Homo sapiens: one gene and its partners. The protein of the gene in region 4 interacts with the protein of the main gene of each other region in a biochemical or structural test. Each region holds a gene or a part of one and is shown on either strand. Other genes may lie near its edges. The genes, in order: SRPK2, DAPK1, LRRK2 and NCBP3.

Region 1 (4,963 bases), on a different chromosome or scaffold from region 4:
TCATTTGAGGCCAGGAGTTCGTAACCAGCCTGACCAAGATGGTGAAACCCCATCTCTACTAAAAATACAAAAATTAGCCAGGCGTGGTGGCACATGCCTGTAGTCCCAGCTACTTGGGAGGCTGAGCCAGGAGAATCGCTTGAACCTGGGAGGTGGCAGGTGCAGTGAGCCATGATTGCGCCAGTGCACTCCAGCCTGGGCGACAGAGCAAGATGCCATCTCAAAAAAAAAAGTAGAAGCAAAGTATACCCAGATATCCTTTAGCCTGTGAATAAACTGTTAATCCACACAATGGAATACTTGTTACCAATAAAAAGGAAAGCACAGCCAGGCACGGTGGCTCATGCCTATAATCCCAGCACTTTGGGATGCCAAGGCGGGTGGATCACCTGAGGTCAGGAGCTCGAGACCAGCCTGACCAAAGTGGAGAAACCCCGTCTCTACTTAAAATACAAAATTAGCCTGGCATGGTGGCACATGCCTGTAATCCCAGCTACTCAGGAGGCTAAGTCAGGAGAATCGCTTAAACCCAGGAAGCGGAGGTTACGGTGAGCCAAGATCGTGCCACTGCACTCCAGCCTGGGCAACAAGAGCAAAACTCCATCTCAAAAAAAAAAAAAAAAAAAAAAAAAAGGAATGCTCTGCTCACACAGGCAACAACATGGATGAATCTCAAGGGCATTACGCTGCATGAAAAAAGGCGAATCACAAAAGGTGACATACTGTATAATTCCATTTATATAACATTCTCAAAGTGGCAACATTAAGTGATAGAGAACAGATCAGTGTTTCCCAAGCTTAGATTTGAAGAGAGAGTGACTGTTCTTTGTGGTAATGAAACAGTTTGGCATCCTGACTGTGGTGATTATTCTAATCTACACAAGTGACACAATTTGTTAGAACTACACAGAGAGTGCATGTAAAACTGATAAAATCCAAGTAAAATCTTTCTTGAATTAATAACATTGTCTCAATGTCAATTTATTGGTTTCAACAATGTTCTATGGTTAAGATATCAACGTCAGGGAAGTTGAATAAAGAGTACACAAAGAACTCTGTACCACTTTTGCAAGGTCTTGTGAGTCTGAAATTATTTCAAAAGTAAAAATTTTTTTTTTTTTTTTTTTTTTTTTTTTGGAGACAGAGTCTCGCTCTATCGCCCAGGCTGGAGTGCAGTGGCACAATCTCGGTTCACTGCAAGCTCCGCCTCCTGGGTTCACGCCATTCTCCCGCCTCAGCCTCCCAACTAGCTGGGACTATAGGTGCCCGCCACCATGCCCGGCTAATTTTTTGTATTTTTTTTTTTAGTAGAGACGGGGTTTCACCGTAGCCAGGATGGTCTCGATCTCCTGACCTCGTGATCTGCCCACCTCAGCCTCCCAAAGTGCTGGGATTATAGGCATGAGCCACCGCACCCGGCCTCAAAATTAAATGTTTTAATAAAAATTTTACAAGAACAAAAAACAAAACAGAATTTTTTTTTTTTTTTAATTGAGACGGAGTGTCGCTCTGTCACCCAGGCTGGAGTGCAGCGGCATGATCTCGGCTCACCACAACCTCCGTCTCCCAGGTTCAAGCAATTCTTCTGCCTCAGCCTCCCGAGTAGCTGGAACTGCAGGAGCACACTACCATGCCAGGCAATTTTTGTATTTTTAGTAGAGACGGGGTTTCACCCTATTGGCCAGGCTGGTCTCGAACTATTGACCTCGTGATCCGCCCACCTCATCCTCCCAAAGTGCTGGGATTACAGGCATGAGCCACCACGCCTGGCCAGAAATAGAAAAATTTTAAGGAACAATGGATAAATGGATAAAATGTGGCATATTGACACAACTATTCAACAATATAAAGGAATTAAGTACTAATACGTGCCATAACATGGATGAACCTTGAAAACATTGTTCTAAGGAAACCAGACAAAGCCACATACTGTATATTCCATTTACATGAAATGTTCAGAATAAGCAGATTCATAGAGACTTAGAATGTAAATTAGTTGTTGCCAACGCAGGGGGAAGGGGAATGGAGAATAACTGGGAAATAAATATGGAGTTTCTTTCTGGGGAAGTGAAAATGTTATAGAATTAGATAACGGCTGCACAATTTAATGAATAGACTAAAAATCTGTAAATGGCCTACTTTAAAAGGTAAATTTTATGGTATGTGAACTATATCCCAATAAAAGTTATGAAAAAAATAAATGAAAGAGATATTTTAAAAATTGTACCTCCATATAAACATACTATAAGGCAAAAATTTATCCCAAGCTATGTGATGTAGCTAATTCCTAAGATTTGTGACTAAACAGCACTACAGTCCTTCCGTTCTGCCTGTTACTCACAAAGCAGCACAATTAATAATAAGCAAACTAAACTCACAGGACAATCTAACAGGATTAAAATTTTGACCCACTAAATAATCTTAATCTTATTCCTGACAACTACAATTTCCAGTGTACCATAAAAGTAGCCTCTAGGAACTGGCTCAATTCATAAAAGCTCACAGATTTGAAATGAACTAAAATTAATTAAAAGCCTGCTTGTATATACAAAAGTAGATAATGACAAAAGTAAATCATATTATACCAAGCCAGACCCACAGTCACATAATTCAAGTTTGCCAGTCATCATATTAATAGTTTAAAATTATACCTATTACTCCTTTTCCTCCTCTGGAAAATTAATCAAAAAGCAAAAACCGTGCTTCAAGAGACCTGAATTCTGATCCAAACGAAGCTATTGTGGGCTTAACCTGTCAGAGCTGTCTGTAAAATTCGGGGTACCCTGAAAATACTAGTCTCCTGGAGATTCTTTTACCACTTCTCAGGTGCCACTCCTCACACACTCAACGTCACCCGGTTTCCCATGCACTACTGCAGGCCACTTCTGTTTCCACTACTACCCCCATCCCCACAATCTATTCTCCACATAGCAACCTTTTTTTTTTTTTGAGACGGAGTCTGGCTCTGTCGCCCAGGCTGGAGTGCAGTGGCGCAATCTCGGCTCACTGCAAGCTCCGCCTCCCGGGTTCACGCCATTCTCCTGCCTCAGCCTCCCGAGTAGCTGGGACTACAGGCGCCCACACGCCCAGCTAATTTTTTATATTTTTAGTAGGGACGGGGTTTCACCGTGTTAGCCAGGATGGTCTCGATCTCCTGACCTCGTGATCCGCCCGCCTCGGCCTCCCAAAGTGCTGGGATTACAGGCGTGAGCCACCGCGCCCGGCATTTTTTTTTTTTTTTTTTTTTTTTTTTGAGATGGAGTCTCGCTCTGTCGCCCAAGCTGGAGTGCAGTGGCACAATCCCGGCTCACTGCAAGCTCCGCCTTCCAGGTTCACGCCATTCTCTCGCCTCAGCCTCCCGAGTAGCTGAGACTACAGGCGCCCGCCACCATGCCGGGCTAATTTTGTTTTTGTATTTTTAGTAGAGACGGGGTGTTAGCCAGGATGGTCTTGATCTCCTGACCTCGTGATCCGCCCGCCTCGGCCTCCCAAAGTGCTGGGATTACAGGCGTGAGCCACCGCGCCCGGACAGCAGCCCTCTTTTTAAACAGGAATCAGAACCTGTCCCTTCCACATGTAAGCCTCCAATGGCCTACGAGGGTAGACACGCTCTGACTCCTGCCTCCCATCAACCTCTCTGGGCCACTCAGGCCACTCTTACTTTTGGGTTTCTCGAATACTTCCAGCCCATTCCTCCCCAGGGCCTCTGCCACACTGGATCTCCTCCTCATTCTCGATCCTGCCCAAATGCCATTTCTCAGAGAGTGGACTCTGGTCCCGGGCTGCCTTGATTCAACAGCTGGGCATGTTACTTACTTTTCCTGTGTCCCTGTTTCACCTGTAAAATGTCCGTAATAACGGTGCCTACCTCTTAGGGTTGTCACAAGGTATATGTAAAACAATCGACAGAGTGACTGGCACAGTGTTCAAATGTCATCTATTATTATTACTTAACATGTCCCATCTTCATTTTCTTCCTATCCCTTAGCCCTATCTGAAATTATCTTGTCACCCTCTTTGTGGTTTTCCCCAAACCTCCCAAGGTTAGCTTTGCAAGGAGCTTTGTCTTGTTCAAAACTCTATCACCGGCCGGGCTTGGTGGCTCACGCCTGTAATCCCAGCACTTTAGGAGGCCGAGGCGGGCGAATCACGAGGTCAGGAGATCGACACCATCCTGGCTAACACGGTGAAACCCCACCTCTACTAAAAATACAAAATATTAGCCGGGCGTGGTGGCGGGCGCCTGTAGTCCCAGCTACTCAGGAGGCTGAGGCAGGAGAATGGCGTGAATTCGGGAGGCGGAGCTTGCAGTGAGCCGAGATCGCGCCACTGCCCTCCAGCCTGGGCAACAGAGCAAGACTCGGTCTCAAAAAAAAAAAAAAAACAACCTCTAACACCATCTCCGAAGACAGACATGTAAATACCTATTGAAGACATGAATAAATAAATAACATCAAACAGTTCTTTTAAATAATATCTTGATTCAGGTCGGGCACGGTGGCTCACACCTGTAATCCCAGCTGTGTGGGAGGCCGAGGCCGGTGAATCACCTGAAGTCAGGAGTTGTAGACCAGCCCGGCCAACATGGTGAAACCCCGTCTCTACTAAAAAATACAAAAAAAATAGCTAGGCTTGGTGGCGGGTGCCTGTAATCCCAGCTACTCAGGAGGCTGAGGCAGGAGAATCCCTTGAACCTGGGAGGCGGAGGTTGCAGTGAGCCAAGATTGGGCCATTGCACTCCAGCCTGAGCGACAAGAGCGAAACTCTGCCTCAAAAAAATTATTAAATAAAATTATGACTTGATTCAAAGAGTTAAGTGAAAAATGGCAATGCCTCAATCAGTTATATAATTGGGCTGGTCCCGTTACCTTACAGACTAGAGCCAGTTCGTTTCATCATTAGCTGGTGTGTTATTTTCCCCCTCAAATTCTATCACATATACACAATACACAGTGGGAGAAAC
Region 2 (4,963 bases), on a different chromosome or scaffold from region 4:
GAGTTTTTAGGGGAGCTTGTTCGTCCATCCACCTGATAAAGTTTTGAATGCATGCTGTGTGCCTGGCTCTGGCGGGGAGTGGGGCATACAGCAGTAGCCAATAGCTGGGGTGGGAGGTTCTGACCACTCCCCTCCACCCACTTACAGTCTGGACAGAGAAATAAACTAAAAAAATCCGCAACCAACAACATACATTTTGCTTTTTTTGTAAATGTATTCTTTTTTTTTGTTTTTTTGAGACAGTCTCGCTCTGTCACCAGGCTGAAGGGCAGTGGCACAATCTTGGCTCACTGCCACCTCCGTCTCCCAGGTTCAAGTGATTCTCCTGCCTCAGTCTCCCGAGTAGCTGAGACTACAGGCACACGTCACCATGCCCAGTTGTTTTTTGTATTTTTAGTAGAGACGGTGTTTCTCCATGTTGGCCAGGATGGTCTCGATCTCTTGACCTTGTGATCCGCCCGCCTCAGCCTCCCAAAGTGCTGGGATTACAGGTGTGAGCCATTGCGCCCAGGCTACTAAATGTGATTTTTATAAATGTGTTAGTATTTACATACAAACCAATACTAGACAAGAGAGGAAAAAACCCTTATCAGACCATATATTGTGAATTTGAGTTTTAAAGAATTAATTAAACATGCAAGTTATGAACTTTTCAGGTACTCTCTAATTGAAATAAGAAGATATACACTATAAATTCTGTACAAAGCTGGCTTGCAGATTTTTTTCTCGTCATTAGAGTTAAGACATCACCTCTAAGTATGTTTAATTAAAATGTTTTCAAGATACACTGATATTTTCTTCACAGCATTTCATCTCTGCCCCTCCTCTCATTTGTGAACACGGAACCTTAGGAAAATGGTTCCCAAGTGCTTTCAAGCACAAATGTGTCTGAATGCAGAATTGTCAACAACCTGCACAGAGAATTCTGAATCCATGCTTGGCGGTTTCAGCATAGTCTTTATGCTGTTTTCTTGTCTGAAGTTTGAGCGCACCAATAGTCTATGAGAGAAGGAATCAATATGAAACAGAGTTGTTACCAATAACCTCTGCTTCCGGGTTCTCAGCGTTGCAGGTGGCGAGCTGTTTGACTTCTTAGCTGAAAAGGAATCTTTAACTGAAGAGGAAGCAACTGAATTTCTCAAACAAATTCTTAATGGTGTTTACTACCTGCACTCCCTTCAAATCGCCCACTTTGATCTTAAGGTACGTTTCAAAGTGTAAGCCAGATAGAAGCTTGTGCAGATCACAGCCTTGGTTGTTTCTCTGCTAAGAAAAATTGAGGCATCTGAAAGAGTTACATGATTTTCCTGTACCAGTTTAACAAACAGAAATATCACTATAAATCGGCAAGCATAGGATACATGCCCCCCACTGGGATGGCTAACCTTTTTGTGGGATAGAGGCTTAATGATAATTGATTACATTCTGGAATTCTTGGTAAAGAATACAAGGGGTCTTAGGAGCCAGGTTTTTTAGTAAGGGGGCTGCTCTAGCCAGCAGCTAGTGACTGGCACTGGTTCCTTCTGTGGCTCTGGGCATGTTAAGATAGAAAATGTGTTGAGTGATGCAAAGGCGTATGGCCTGACTCTGTCACCAATAATCAAGCAAACCAAACTCAGATTGGCTAATTGGGGCATTTGCCTGGCTGGATGCAGGACGCTGTTGGAGATGAAAGGGCATGTAAGCCGTCCTCCCAGCCATGACAGAGGTGTGGTCTCTTTGGGAAGGGAAGACACGACAGGAGCAATAGGAAGTGGCAATGGTGGGAAGTTCCAGTTCAAGGCAGGAAGAGGTGGTCTGGTAAAGCAGCGCGTGCTCCATCCGAGTAGTTGATTCAGACCAGTAGAGCTGGGATAGGATTTCAGAGGAGGGAGGATTTTCCCCATTCTTCTGTAGCAGAGCTGTCAATGTCCCATTCATGTCCCTGCTGGCCCCACAAACAATGTGCAAAAGCACACACTCATATACATCCTAACAGAGGGCTTGTTGCAAATACCTGTGACTCTTCCTGGCATCTTGTTTCTGGCCCTGGGAGCTGGAAATGCAAAAGAAAAATGTCCACAGAAGCAACTGTCAGCCATGGAGGATGGAGAAATGGTGGATAAAGACCCCAGCTCCCTCCTGCTACAATTGGAATAACACTGAGTTCTCCTTTTCCTCTCCCATTCCCCCAGTTACCCCCACTTGATAGGACACCTCGTAGCAGCTTCCTTCTGTTTCCTGTATCTCCTTTCTCTACCAAGTGTTTCCTGGTGTCCCCTCCCACATAACCCACTTGCATCCGAATCCTTGTCTCAGGCCTGCTTCAGGGAGAACCTAGAGCAAGACATGTATTTTCCTGCTGTTCTCTTCCAACCACCCTTTCTTCCCTACTTTTTGGCCTTTTTTTTTTTTTTGGAGAGAAGAACTATTCTGCCATCTTGTCCTCAGCATAACATATCATAGCTTTTTATTTATCTCTCTCTTTTTTTCAAGCCTGAGAACATAATGCTTTTGGATAGAAATGTCCCCAAACCTCGGATCAAGATCATTGACTTTGGGTTGGCCCATAAAATTGACTTTGGAAATGAATTTAAAAACATATTTGGGACTCCAGAGTTTGTCGGTAAGTTTCTTTGCTCCTGTGGTCATTTACGTCTCATAAACATTATTCTGGCAAACCTCCCCTGCTAGAAGATTCTTTCCCTGCTACATGTTCCTGGTTGTTGCATGAAGATAGAATCGGTTAGTTTGCTTCCTCCCAAGCTAAATGAGTGTTTGTTTCCTCTTAGCTCCTGAGATAGTCAACTATGAACCTCTTGGTCTTGAGGCAGATATGTGGTAAGGAGTATGTCCTTGGTGTTGTTTGCTTTCTGATTTATTTGACTATTCTTCTGACATGTTTTTTTGTTTGTTTTGTGTTGTTTTTAGGAGTATCGGGGTAATAACCTATATCCTGTAAGTATCAGAATTCACAACTCATACTCTCTTCTCTTCTATGAGACCATAGGTTTAATTAACCATTAAATGTGCTGTGTTGATCTCTTCAGCTTATGCATGCTTTTGATGCAAACATATTCATTTTACACCCCCAAAACATGTTTAGTTTATACTAATTAAACATGTTCTCCTAATTTGAAATGAGTCATCAGAAACTGTAGCATAATCACTGAAAGAAAGCATAGCTGTCCATCACTGCCGAGAAAACAGGTTTCCTTTAAACTACCAGACGCTGTTCCAGATTAACTTGTTAAGTGAATCCTTTTGCCTGAAGCTGAAGCATTTGCTCCTGACAGTTAAAGCCCTATGAAATATAATCAAACTGTGACTATTCGAGCACCAGATTATAATCTTATTCCACACTCCAGATGTTATAGGAGCAAAATGACAACACCAAGGGGTCATCATTAATGTTCTATGCCCAACTTTATTTTTAACAGCCTAAGTGGGGCCTCCCCATTTCTTGGAGACACTAAGCAAGAAACGTTAGCAAATGTATCCGCTGTCAACTACGAATTTGAGGATGAATACTTCAGTAATACCAGTGCCCTAGCCAAAGATTTCATAAGAAGACTTCTGGTCAAGGATCCAAAGTGAGTGTCCACGTTCCTGAAAGGTGCTTGGCCACGGCCTCAGCCAGCCCAGAGCCTGTGTCTGTTCCATGCACAGGGCCACGTTCCTCAGACCCTGCTTGCTTCATCTGCCAAAGGGCAGCATGCCATGTGAAACGCTTCAGAAAATGCAAGCAGGGCCCTCTGCCCCCACTCAGTCAGTCCCTGCAGGCACAGTGAAATAATCACAAAAAGACCGATGTTGTTTTTGGCTTTCTTCCCTGAACTGCATTTTCCACAGTATCTGCTTGGCAGGCCCAGCCAGCATGAAAACAACCTTAGTATTTGCTGCTATGGTCACAGCATTTTTTTTCTTCTCCCCCTCCCCTCAAGGAAGAGAATGACAATTCAAGATAGTTTGCAGCATCCCTGGATCAAGGTGAGTTGCATATTACGAAACTGTTTAGATCACTTTCTATGTGATTGGTTTGGGCACCCTGGTATTCATGTATCATAGAGTACTGCTAACCACAGGTCACACCTGGAGTGTTAAGTTTGCTATTTGCATCGTATCTTAAGAAAAGCTGACAGGTTAGACTGTATACTAATGATCCCAGAGGTGGGGAGAGAGGAATAAGCGAGCACAGAGCAGGAACTGAAGAAGGTCAAGCCCACTCGACAACTGTGTTTGGAGTGACCTGTGGGGTGTTGGCCCAAACAGTGTATTTAACATTTTATGTTGATTCCAGCATGTAAATATCAATCAAATCTGGATTTCCAGCTTCTCTTGGGAAATCTGAAGATCTGCTGACACTGAGCCCTCATTCCACGTGGCCTTGGGAAGTGGCACAGGTGCCTTGGTGCTAGGGAACAGGGCGCCCTGGAACATTACACCTTTACATTACCTGCCTGGCCTGGTTGACATTTGGATTAAAGTATCTTCAATCCAGGGCAGAAAGGGCTAAGGGTGGGAAAGTATGATAGTTACAGAATAAAATCATGAAATAAAGAAGTGAACATCACAGAATCAGGCTCTGGGGGCAAATAGCTTTGCTGTGCAAGTTCCCAGCAGTTACCTGGGTTCTCCTAGCCAGCTATGGTGTCTCCTCCTCCCAGAGGTGGAGGACAAAAGCTAAATACATCTACTGAAAAAGATACAATACAAGGAATTCTCCTGCTATAGGCCAAACTAACTTTGCTGACCTCTGAGATCCCTCTCAGCTCTACATTACTTGATGATACCCAAGTTCAAATGCCTCATAACATAGCCTCACCATGAATATTGCCATTCCCAAACTATCAGTGTGGAAAGTTGTGATTTAGTTTGACCCCAAGCTCTACTTCTCCCCAGTGTCCATGGATGATACGAAACCCTGAGATAGAAGAGTGAGCCCGCTAAGACTAGGTGCCTAGGTATTCCATGTTATCCCAAC
Region 3 (4,963 bases), on a different chromosome or scaffold from region 4:
GAGAGCATAGTGCTTAGTCTGATGCAGCCTGTGAGTGACAAATCCATAGCAAGCACATTCTTTCTGTGCTGGTGCTGAGAAACAGGACCATTTTCAAGCTTATTTGCTAGCCACTTTATATTTTTATTTTGTTTTGATTTTACCATATAGATCTATGATACTCTTGAGAACATTTTAGATTACACACTATATCTGTAAAAGGATACTTCAAAGTTTCCTGTCTTAGATTCATCTGACAGTTTTTCTATGGATTGTGAGAAGGGCTCACAGTTTATGTTCAGAAGGGCCAACAGGTCTCCTTGATAAAGGGTTCCTTACTTCCTGAAGTACCAAAACGATTAGGATTCTTTTATTTCTGGACACTTCATTTTTGTCATGAATTAGACTATTCACTGGTTCTGGGAAAAAATTCAGTGGTTTGTATCGATATCTTTTACATGTGAATGACTATAATTTTATGTTCCTTTGTAACATTGAGACTTCATGTAAAACTTTTGACTCTAACTTTTTTTTTTCTTTATCCTGGGCACATGTATGCTATTTTTACTGAATTAGATAGCTTTGGTATTTATAAAAATTGTATCCCTCTTATTCATAATTTCCTGAAAATGAAGGGCTATTGTTATCTTTGATAATTTATGCTTCAAGTAAAGAAGTGTGGCTCTTTGGCATCTGTATTTAGCAAAATTTGCTTTGTATAATTTTAATGATGCATAATGGTGGTGGTGTCATGTTTTAATAATTTAAAATGTTGTTTATGTTATCATATGTAAATAGCATTTATCTCTTAATTGGTGGTAAAATTATTAATGTATACTTTATGGTTCTAGGGAGGTAATGGTAAAAGAAAACAAGGAATCAAAACACAAAATGTCTTATTCTGGGAGAGTGAAAACCCTCTGCCTTCAGAAGAACACTGCTCTTTGGATAGGAACTGGAGGAGGCCATATTTTACTCCTGGATCTTTCAACTCGTCGACTTATACGTGTAATTTACAACTTTTGTAATTCGGTCAGAGTCATGATGACAGCACAGCTAGGCAAGTTTCTTTCCTTTAGATATTTTTCATATTCTCTAAGTCTTATAAAATATGCCTTTATTTTACGTTTACATTTTCTCTGAACTTTCCAGTGTCATATGGATGGTCTTGGAGGGTCACACAGTGAAACATAAGACTGGTATAAATTGTGAATAGGGTCATTACAGAAGTGGAGGGAGTAAATGCTCTCAGTCCCACAAGAGAAGCAGATTACTGCAGCTGAACACTCAGTTTGGGTCTTACTTGCTTTTTTCCTTTTTACCTAAGGCAAAAATGGGAAATACATGGTATTGAATATATTTTACTTTTTGAGCAAAGAAAATAAAGAAAATGTTTGTTTTAATCATAGTCTAGCCTCCCAGCTTGTTAAAGAATCTCATTTGGTTTTTCATTCTATAACAAATCTTTTTTCTTGCAGCAATACATGCTGAACTGCACAACCTACAAATATTGACAAATCATATTTTACTCAAACTTTGTCTTTTTTTGCTTCTATTTTTATATTTAAATATGATAAAATTGTGATAGCACATAAAATATATTTTCTGCATAAATATATTTGCGTCTTCCTTTGATAATAATTTGTTTTAGAAAATAACAATAATAGCATATATACAAAAGTTTACAAAAACGACACTATGGGGTTTAATTCTGAAAAAAACTAGAATTTATGTAACTTTAGCAAATAATGAATGTTTTGAACATGGTGAAGAAAATATATTCATTGCAAGTATATGTGAAAGAGGAACATGTGTTTTTCTAGCACCTTCACCTATTTTTCATTTATAGACTTTAGAGTTGCACAGGAGTTACAATTAGATGCTCTTAATGACTGTAAACTATTAAGATACATGTCCACACAAGCAGAGCAGTAGGTCTCTCAATAGGTTGTCTCAGTAGTCTTATTCTACCAAAGTTGTTGCATTCTCTAGTTGAATTGTATGTACTTTGGGACCCAAATAGCTTGCTTATAACTGAAGTTATAGTGGAATGTCTATGGGTTATAGTTTGATTTTAAAATAAAGATCAATTGGAGGATAGCCTACAAGGTGCTGCATGAGCTGGCTTCACTGTACCTCTCCTGCCTCCATCATCTACCACATTCCTACCAGATCTTGCTTGTCTAGATGAACATCCAGTTCTTCTCAATTACTATGCTATATTTTGCCTCAGGGATTTGCACATGCTGTTTATTTCTTTGCTTAGTTAACATAGCTTTTTTTCATGCTTATTTAACTCATATGCTTTGAAATGTTAGCTCCTGTGTCAAAACCTCTGAGAAGCCAACACTGATTAGGTCAAAGTTCCCGCTTTGGGTTCCCATAACAGCTTTCTTGCATAGTTTTGATCATGGTCATATTTTTTTTTCATTAATGCTAGTCTCTTCACTAGAATATAAACTCCAAGACGGTTGGGTTAGTGTGTTTTTGTTTACCCCTTTTTTCCCAGGATCTAGCCTAGGGCCTACATAGAAGACTTTTGATGCAAATTTGTTGAATAAATTAGTGAATGATTTGAAAAGAAAATATGATATTTTGACATAGTATCAGTATATCCATCCATCTAAGTGTCCATCTAAATACTCATATTTGTACTAAATACTCATATTTGTACCTTACCATATCCAAAGAACTTTTCACACACATTACCTCGTTTAACATTGTAACTTTGGGAAGGGTAATGTATAAATACTGAGCCTATTTTATAGAAAGGTTAAGCTGTTTTCTCAGACTCACATAATTAAGAATTGCAGCAAGGAGTGGATCACAGATTTTGTTATTTTTTAAAAAAATGCTGGTCTTTATTCAATATAATTGAAGGGTCACCTAGAAAATAGAATTGTGAATTCAGTTCCAAGGTATTTGTGTCTTAAACTATGAACAACTTTACTTTTTTTTCAGGCCAGTTTAATATATAGTTTTAACAGAAAACTTACATATTTTGTTTTTGTAAAGGAAGCCTTAAAAATGTCATGCTGGTATTGGGCTACAACCGGAAAAATACTGAAGGTACACAAAAGCAGAAAGGTAACATTTAGAAGGATACTGTTTTCCAAACAGGGCAATGATGTGAATGATGGTAACATATTATGTGTTTCATAAATTTGTAGAAAATATTACATATGGTATAATCAGGAATTTTAATTGGTAGTTTATAGTGTAAAGAACTTAGACATAAATTTTCAAAATTACAAGTGATATGAAGTGTTAAATATTTATATTTTCAGCTGAAGTAGAGGTGTCAATCACTAGCTCAACCTTAAACGAAATGTGAATATTTTTTACAACTTATCTATATCTACATAATGTCTAATTTTGAACAGTGTTTGAAAAAGCTTTTATTTCTTTTAGAATATGAAATGTTAATTTATTAAATGTTGATACTCTATTTGAAATTTAATAGTTTCTATAATGTATTATAAAACTTTTCCAAGTATAGTTTTTTATAAATAATAATTTAGTACATTAGTTATAGCTGTGTTTATATTTACATTTATCTAAGTCAACTAAAAATACATGAGCCAAACTGAAATAAAATAAGAATGTTTTATGATGGATCTTTGAAACATGATTTCATTTTTTTCTTTTTCTAGAGATACAATCTTGCTTGACCGTTTGGGACATCAATCTTCCACATGAAGTGCAAAATTTAGAAAAACACATTGAAGTGAGAAAAGAATTAGCTGAAAAAATGAGACGAACATCTGTTGAGTAAGAGAGAAATAGGAATTGTCTTTGGATAGGAAAATTATTCTCTCCTCTTGTAAATATTTATTTTAAAAATGTTCACATGGAAAGGGTACTCACATTTTTTGAAATAGCTCGTGTGTATGAAGGAATGTTATTATTTTTAATTTAAATATATGTAAAAATACTTACCAGTAAATGTGTATTTTAAAGAACTATTTAAAACACAATGTTATATTTCTTATAAATACCAGTTACTTTCGTTCATTAATTAATGAAAATAAATCTGTGAAGTACCTAATTTAAGTACTCATACTAAAATTTATAAGGCCGATAATTTTTTGTTTTCTTGTCTGTAATGGAGGTAAACTTTATTTTAAATTCTGTGCTTAAGACAGGACTATTGCTTGTCGATTTTTCTAGAAATCTGCACGGTATAATGAAAATATTAAGACAGTTTCCCATGTAATGTATTCCTTCTTAGATTGCATCGAAATGCACTATCATATATGCTTGTAAATATTCAAATGAATTTGCACTAATAAAGTCCTTTGTTGGTATGTGAATTCTCTTTGTTGCTGTTGCAAACAGTGCATCTTACACAACTTCACTCAATTCAAAAGAAAACTCCATTAAAAGTACTAATGAAAAAACATGACATACTGTCAAAGTCCTCATATCTAGGAAAGACACAGAAACTCTCTTTGTCACAGAAACTCTCTGTGTCTTTCCTAGACATAATAGAGTTGTTTTTCAACTCTATGTTTGAATGTGGATACCCTGAATTTTGTATAATTAGTGTAAATACAGTGTTCAGTCCTTCAAGTGATATTTTTATTTTTTTATTCATACCACTAGCTACTTGTTTTCTAATCTGCTTCATTCTAATGCTTATATTCATCTTTTCCCTAAATTTGTGATGCTGCAGATCCTACATCATTCAGATAGAAACCTTTTTTTTTTTCAGAATTATAGAATTCCACAGCTCCTACCAAGACCATGAGGATAAATATCTAACACTTTTCAGTTGCTGAAGGAGAAAGGAGCTTTAGTTATGATGGATAAAAATATCTGCCACCCTAGGCTTCCAAATTATACTTAAATTGTTTACATAGCTTACCACAATAGGAGTATCAGGGCCAAATACCTATGTAATAATTTGAGGTCATTTCTGCTTTAGGAAAAGTACTTTCGGTAAATTCTTTGGCCCTGACCAGTATTCATTATTTCAGATAAT
Region 4 (4,963 bases):
TGATTACTCCAGAACTATATTTCTGAAGAAACAACCTTTTTTTTTTTTTCTTTAAGCAGAATCAAGAAGACTAAGTAATTTACAAAAGTTTCAGCGAACAAAAAATCCTGTGAGCTCCTGGAAAGTGGAAGGCACAATCTTTGAACATACAAGTAGTTCCCAATAAACTTATTACATTTAACCAGTAAATATAAAGAGACTGGAAAAGGCAAAGGATCAAATGTGTTTTTCCCTCAATCCCCCCAGAAATCGGCCTGTCCTCTTGAGTTCCCCCTAACCACCACAGCAACAACAGAAACACATTCGTTGGTGAGGCCCTGTGCCGAGGTCTCCTCTCACTTTAGCTTCTCTCAGAGAGCAGCACCCTGGTCTCTGGTCACTGAGACCTGAGCTCCTTTCCTCCAACACTTCCTAGCACTGAGTCTTCCTTCACAAGACTATCCTGTTCTTTATCCATTCTGTCTCCACCGACCTAGTTCAGGCTCTTGTTACTTTTTTAACTCTCTACCCCACCCCACTCCACCCTCAAGTTGTCTTTCTAAAATAGATGTAAGATCAGGTTACTTCTCATGTAAAAAAATCAGGTTTGCCAACAGAGATCCTACCCTCTCCAAGGCCTGGCTCTAATGCTACTTTCTCTAAGAAGTCTTTCACAACTTCCCGAGTAGATCTATGACGGCTCTGCGTCCCCTCCAAAGGCTTCTCACATTCCTAGCACCTAGACCAGGGTCTGGCACATAGCAGGTACGGCTAAAGACCTGCTGAATCAGTGTTTGAACATAGAAATTATCTAGTTCAAACTCTTAACTGTTCAGACAACCACCGAACTTAATTTCTATTATTCTTGTATATAAAGTATACCAGTGTCATACAGAGGAAAATATGGTTGGCCCTCCTCATCCATGGATTCCACATCTATAGATTCAACCAACTGCTGATCGAATACATGTGGAAAAAAAGTAAGACATAAGAGTACAGCAAAAAATAATACAAATTTTACACAACACAGGATAAGAATTTATACCGTATTAGGTATTGTAAATAATCTAGAGATGACTTAAAGTATATGAGAGGATGTGTGTAGGTTATATGCAGATAATATGTCACTTTATATAAGGGACTTAAGCATCAATGGATTTTGGTATCTGTAGGGGGCGGGGAGGGGGTCCTGGAAGCAAGCCCCCAGACATACCAAGGAACAACTGTAATTATTTGGAATAAAAACATTTAAAGCTAGTTTTTCAGAAGTCTGATTATTTTTCATTTCCTCAATTTCCAACACCTAGCCCACAATTTAGACATGATGAACCAGGACAGCTAAATCAGTTCACACATCGCATGTTTTACTCAGGAACCTCTCTCTGCCCCAGTCTGCTTTCCGGAGCTCAGAATCCAGCCAGGAATCCAAGTGAGGAACAGTACCTGATTTAGTACTGCTGACTGGTGGCCGTGGACGGGAGTGCTGACGTTTCTCATCTAATAGATGTCGGACATCTGCAAATTTCTCAGGTGGTAATTTGTTACCAATTCGGTTTTTGATATTGCTTGAAGATACACTATCTGCCCTCATGGAGTTCCTTTAAAAAGGGGGTAGGATGGGGCACAGTTAACCAACTTCAACTGTGAGACAAGACCCAAACAACAATCTCATACTTTGGAGGAAACAATTTAAGAAATCCTGTCTTACATGGCCAACATTCACTTACAAATCCATAAACTTATAATTATTTGCTTATGGAAACCATGATCTGCCTGCTCTAAAGAGACTGGTTCTGGTGAGCAGGTTTTCGAAGGTGGTTTCCACATGTGTATGTGCTATTACACAGCATACAACTACAAGTCCCCCTTTTCTGGGACAAACGTTAAGTAGAGGCCTACAAAGAGATTGGGGCTTCCACTTACACATGCTGTGATGTGGCTGTAGTCAACACACAGTATAGTCTACAGTCTCTCTCTTTAAAGGGCAGACTTCTCTTTCAAAGAGATATGCTATCATGCTAGGTGCCAGCACCGTTCCGGCAGCATTCTCTACCAGAAAGCTCTCTGAAAACCAAAAATAAGAATGTGAACAGGCTCATGCCTGTAATCCCAGCACTTTGGGAAGCTGAGGCGGGCGGATCACGAGGTCAGGAGATCGAGACCATCCTGGCTAACATGGTGAAACCCAGTCTCTACTAAAAATACAAAAAATTAGCTGGGCGTGGTGGCCTGTACTCCCAGCTCCCCGGGAGGCTGAGGCAGGAAAATGCTGTGAACCCAGAAGGCGGAGCTTGCAGTGAGCCGAGATCGTGTTATCGCTCCACTGCACTCCAGGCTGGGCGACAGAGCGAGACTCCGTCTCAAAAAAAAAAAGAACGTGGTGAACAAGGCCATACAAACAAATCAGCTTGAATGGTCTTTTCCCCTCCCCACAAACATACTACGTTACACAGAGCATCCCTAGACTCTAACCCTTAGAACTGTGGATTCTGCCTGCACAGAATCTGCTCACCCCTAGTAGTAATCAAAGACATGCACATTAAAATAACTATTTTTTTTTTGTTCATGAAACTAGCTAGCATTAGAAAGAATGGTAATAGCTAAGGCTGGTGAGCTTGTAGGTAACAGGTGGTAATGTGAGTGATTAAAACCCTTCTGGGATTAAAACCCTTCTGAGCCCGGGCATGGTGGCTCATGCCTGTAATCCCAGCACTTTGGGAGGCTGAGGCAGGTGGATCACGAGGTCAGGAGATTGAGACCATCCTGGCCAACATGCTGAAACCCGTCTCTACTAAAATTACAAAAAATTAGCCAGGAGTAGTGGCAGGCGCCTGTAGTCCCAGCTACTCGGGAGGCTGAGGCAGGAGAATGGCGTGAACCTGGGAGGCGGAGTTTGCAGTGAGCCGAGATCGCGCCACTGCACTCCAGCCTGGGTGACAGAGCGAGACTCCGTCTCAAAAAAAAAATAAAAACACACAAAAAACCCTTCTGGAAAAAAATAAAGCAATACTTACCATCTTTTTAAACACATATTGTTTTGTGTAATAACTGGACTTTGAGGAATTTATTGAGTTAGTGCAATTGTAAGAAAATAGAAACCTAAAGTCCATCAAAAAGGAATTCGTTAAATAAATCATGATACTTTCAAACAACAGACTATATACAGTTGAAAAAAATAATGTCTACAATATATTAAGTGAAAAATGCACAATGCAAAACTATAAATAGCATAACCTCATCTTTATAAAAAGTATACTTTTATACAAATATATCTACAGCTTTTCCCTGTGCCATACACACACACACACACACACACACAAATAGCTGAAAGGTTATTCGCCAAATTGCTAACAGTAGTTATTGTTGAGAAAGAATGGGAATACAGATGATTTTCACTTTCTATGTTGTCTTTTGTTTTTATAACAAGAATCACTGCTTGTATAGAGGAAATACTGGATGCGTTTATTAAACTCCTACAAGGGACTGAAATCAGAATAGATAAAAGATATTATAAAATTAGGAGGAATTAAGAAGTTATACTAGTATTTAAAATCAAATTAAAAGCTAGCTTTGATAAAACAAATTTTTACCTAATATTTTTCAACTGAGATTCCACTTCGTCAGCATACATAGTCATTTTCATGCTTTTCTTTGGTGAAGGCGTGGAAATCATTTTCAGTTCTAGATCATAGTCCATTTCATCTGAGTCTGAGCTGCTGGCACTGGATCGTCTAGACGCGCTCCGCTCCCGGGGCTGCTTGAGAGCCGGGAGCTCCTCGTGGTACTCTACCACCACTCTGTCATCTGCATCCATGTCCTGGTCTTCTTCTTCCTCTTCCTCTTCCTCCTCCTCCTCCTCTTCCTCCTCTTCAATGGGTTCCTCGGGAACATTCACTAGCCCTGAAGAAATTTAACCAGAAAACATTAGGAAAAGCACTAAAATTAACAAGTATGATTTTCTACTCTACATCGGTGACCTTTTTAAAAGGTGGGGTTCCCATCCCTGACATTTTATTGGAGCACTATCTATAATAGTGCCAAATGGACATTACTCTGATACTGCAACAGGAGGATGGCTAGGTAAAGTATGATGCAGCAGCCTAACCAAATACCATAAAGTCATTTAAAATACAACTGACCTTTATTATTCACAGATTTTGTATTTGCAAATTTACCAAATTTATTTGTAACTCCAAAATGAATACGTGCAATGCTTCCATGGTCATTTGCTGGCACGCACAGAGTGGCAAAAAAATCTGAGTCACCAGGCACACACACTCCCAGTGGAGGTCAAACAAAGCAACACTCCACCTTCCTGTTTCATCTCATGCTGTAAACAAGCGTCTGTTTCAGTCCACCGAGTGGCACATTTTTCACACTTCTGTGCCTGCTGCTAGTGATTTCACTGCTTAAAATGGCCCTGAGTGTCGTGCCGAAGTGCTGCCTAGTGTTCCTAGATGCAAGGGGGCTGTGATGTGCCTTGTGGAAAAATACCATATCAGGTAAGGCATTCAGGCATGAGTTATAGGGCTACTGGCTGTGAACTCAATGTTAACGAATCAACAATGTGTCTTAAATAAGGTGTCTTAAAGAGAAACATATGGGCCCAGCGCGGTGGCTCACGCCTGTAATCCCAGCACTTTGGGAGGCCGAGGTGGGCAGATCACGAGGTCAGGAAATCGAGACCATCCTGGCTAACATGCTAATACCCTGTCTCTACTAAAAAATACAACAAAAATTAGCCGGGCATGGTGGTGTGCGCTTGTAGTCCCAGCTACTCGGGAGGCTGAGGTAGGAGAATGGCGTGAACCCGGGAGGCGGAGGTTGCAGTGAGCCGAGATCGCGCCACTGCACTCCAGCCTGGGCAACAGAGCAAGACTCTGTCTCAAAAAAAAAAAAAAGAGAGAAACATATGTAAAACAAGGTTACATATTGATCAACTGACAAAAATGATGTGGCCAGAGGCTATGTACGATTCAGTATT

Evidence for each region.
Region 1: of the proteins of NCBP3 (region 4) and SRPK2, one has a biochemical effect on the other in vitro, tested with the Homo sapiens proteins (one large-scale study listed by BioGRID and IntAct).
Region 2: the proteins of NCBP3 (region 4) and DAPK1 form a complex in vitro, tested with the Homo sapiens proteins (one large-scale study listed by BioGRID and IntAct).
Region 3: the proteins of NCBP3 (region 4) and LRRK2 form a complex in vitro, tested with the Homo sapiens proteins (one large-scale study listed by BioGRID and IntAct).

What each region holds. Positions count from the first base shown.
Region 1 is NC_000007.14:105,381,946-105,386,908, forward strand, and holds part of SRPK2 (SRSF protein kinase 2), read right to left. Parts: intron 1-4,963. UniProt on the Homo sapiens protein: Serine/arginine-rich protein-specific kinase which specifically phosphorylates its substrates at serine residues located in regions rich in arginine/serine dipeptides, known as RS domains and is involved in the phosphorylation of SR splicing factors and the regulation of splicing.
Region 2 is NC_000009.12:87,636,879-87,641,841, forward strand, and holds part of DAPK1 (death-associated protein kinase 1), read left to right. Parts: intron 1-1,064; coding exon 1,065-1,203; intron 1,204-2,475; coding exon 2,476-2,605; intron 2,606-2,771; coding exon 2,772-2,820; intron 2,821-2,910; coding exon 2,911-2,937; intron 2,938-3,419; coding exon 3,420-3,572; intron 3,573-3,923; coding exon 3,924-3,969; intron 3,970-4,963. UniProt on the Homo sapiens protein: Calcium/calmodulin-dependent serine/threonine kinase involved in multiple cellular signaling pathways that trigger cell survival, apoptosis, and autophagy.
Region 3 is NC_000012.12:40,364,012-40,368,974, forward strand, and holds part of LRRK2 (leucine-rich repeat serine/threonine-protein kinase 2), read left to right. Parts: intron 1-830; coding exon 831-1,039; coding exon of another isoform or gene 1,040-1,122; exon of another isoform or gene 1,123-2,994; coding exon 2,995-3,066; exon of another isoform or gene 3,067-3,632; coding exon 3,633-3,754; 3' UTR 3,755-4,963. UniProt on the Homo sapiens protein: Serine/threonine-protein kinase which phosphorylates a broad range of proteins involved in multiple processes such as neuronal plasticity, innate immunity, autophagy, and vesicle trafficking.
Region 4 is NC_000017.11:3,814,694-3,819,656, forward strand, and holds part of NCBP3 (nuclear cap-binding protein subunit 3), read right to left. Parts: intron 3,880-4,963; coding exon 3,570-3,879; intron 1,578-3,569; coding exon 1,423-1,577; intron 1-1,422. UniProt on the Homo sapiens protein: Associates with NCBP1/CBP80 to form an alternative cap-binding complex (CBC) which plays a key role in mRNA export. NCBP3 serves as adapter protein linking the capped RNAs (m7GpppG-capped RNA) to NCBP1/CBP80.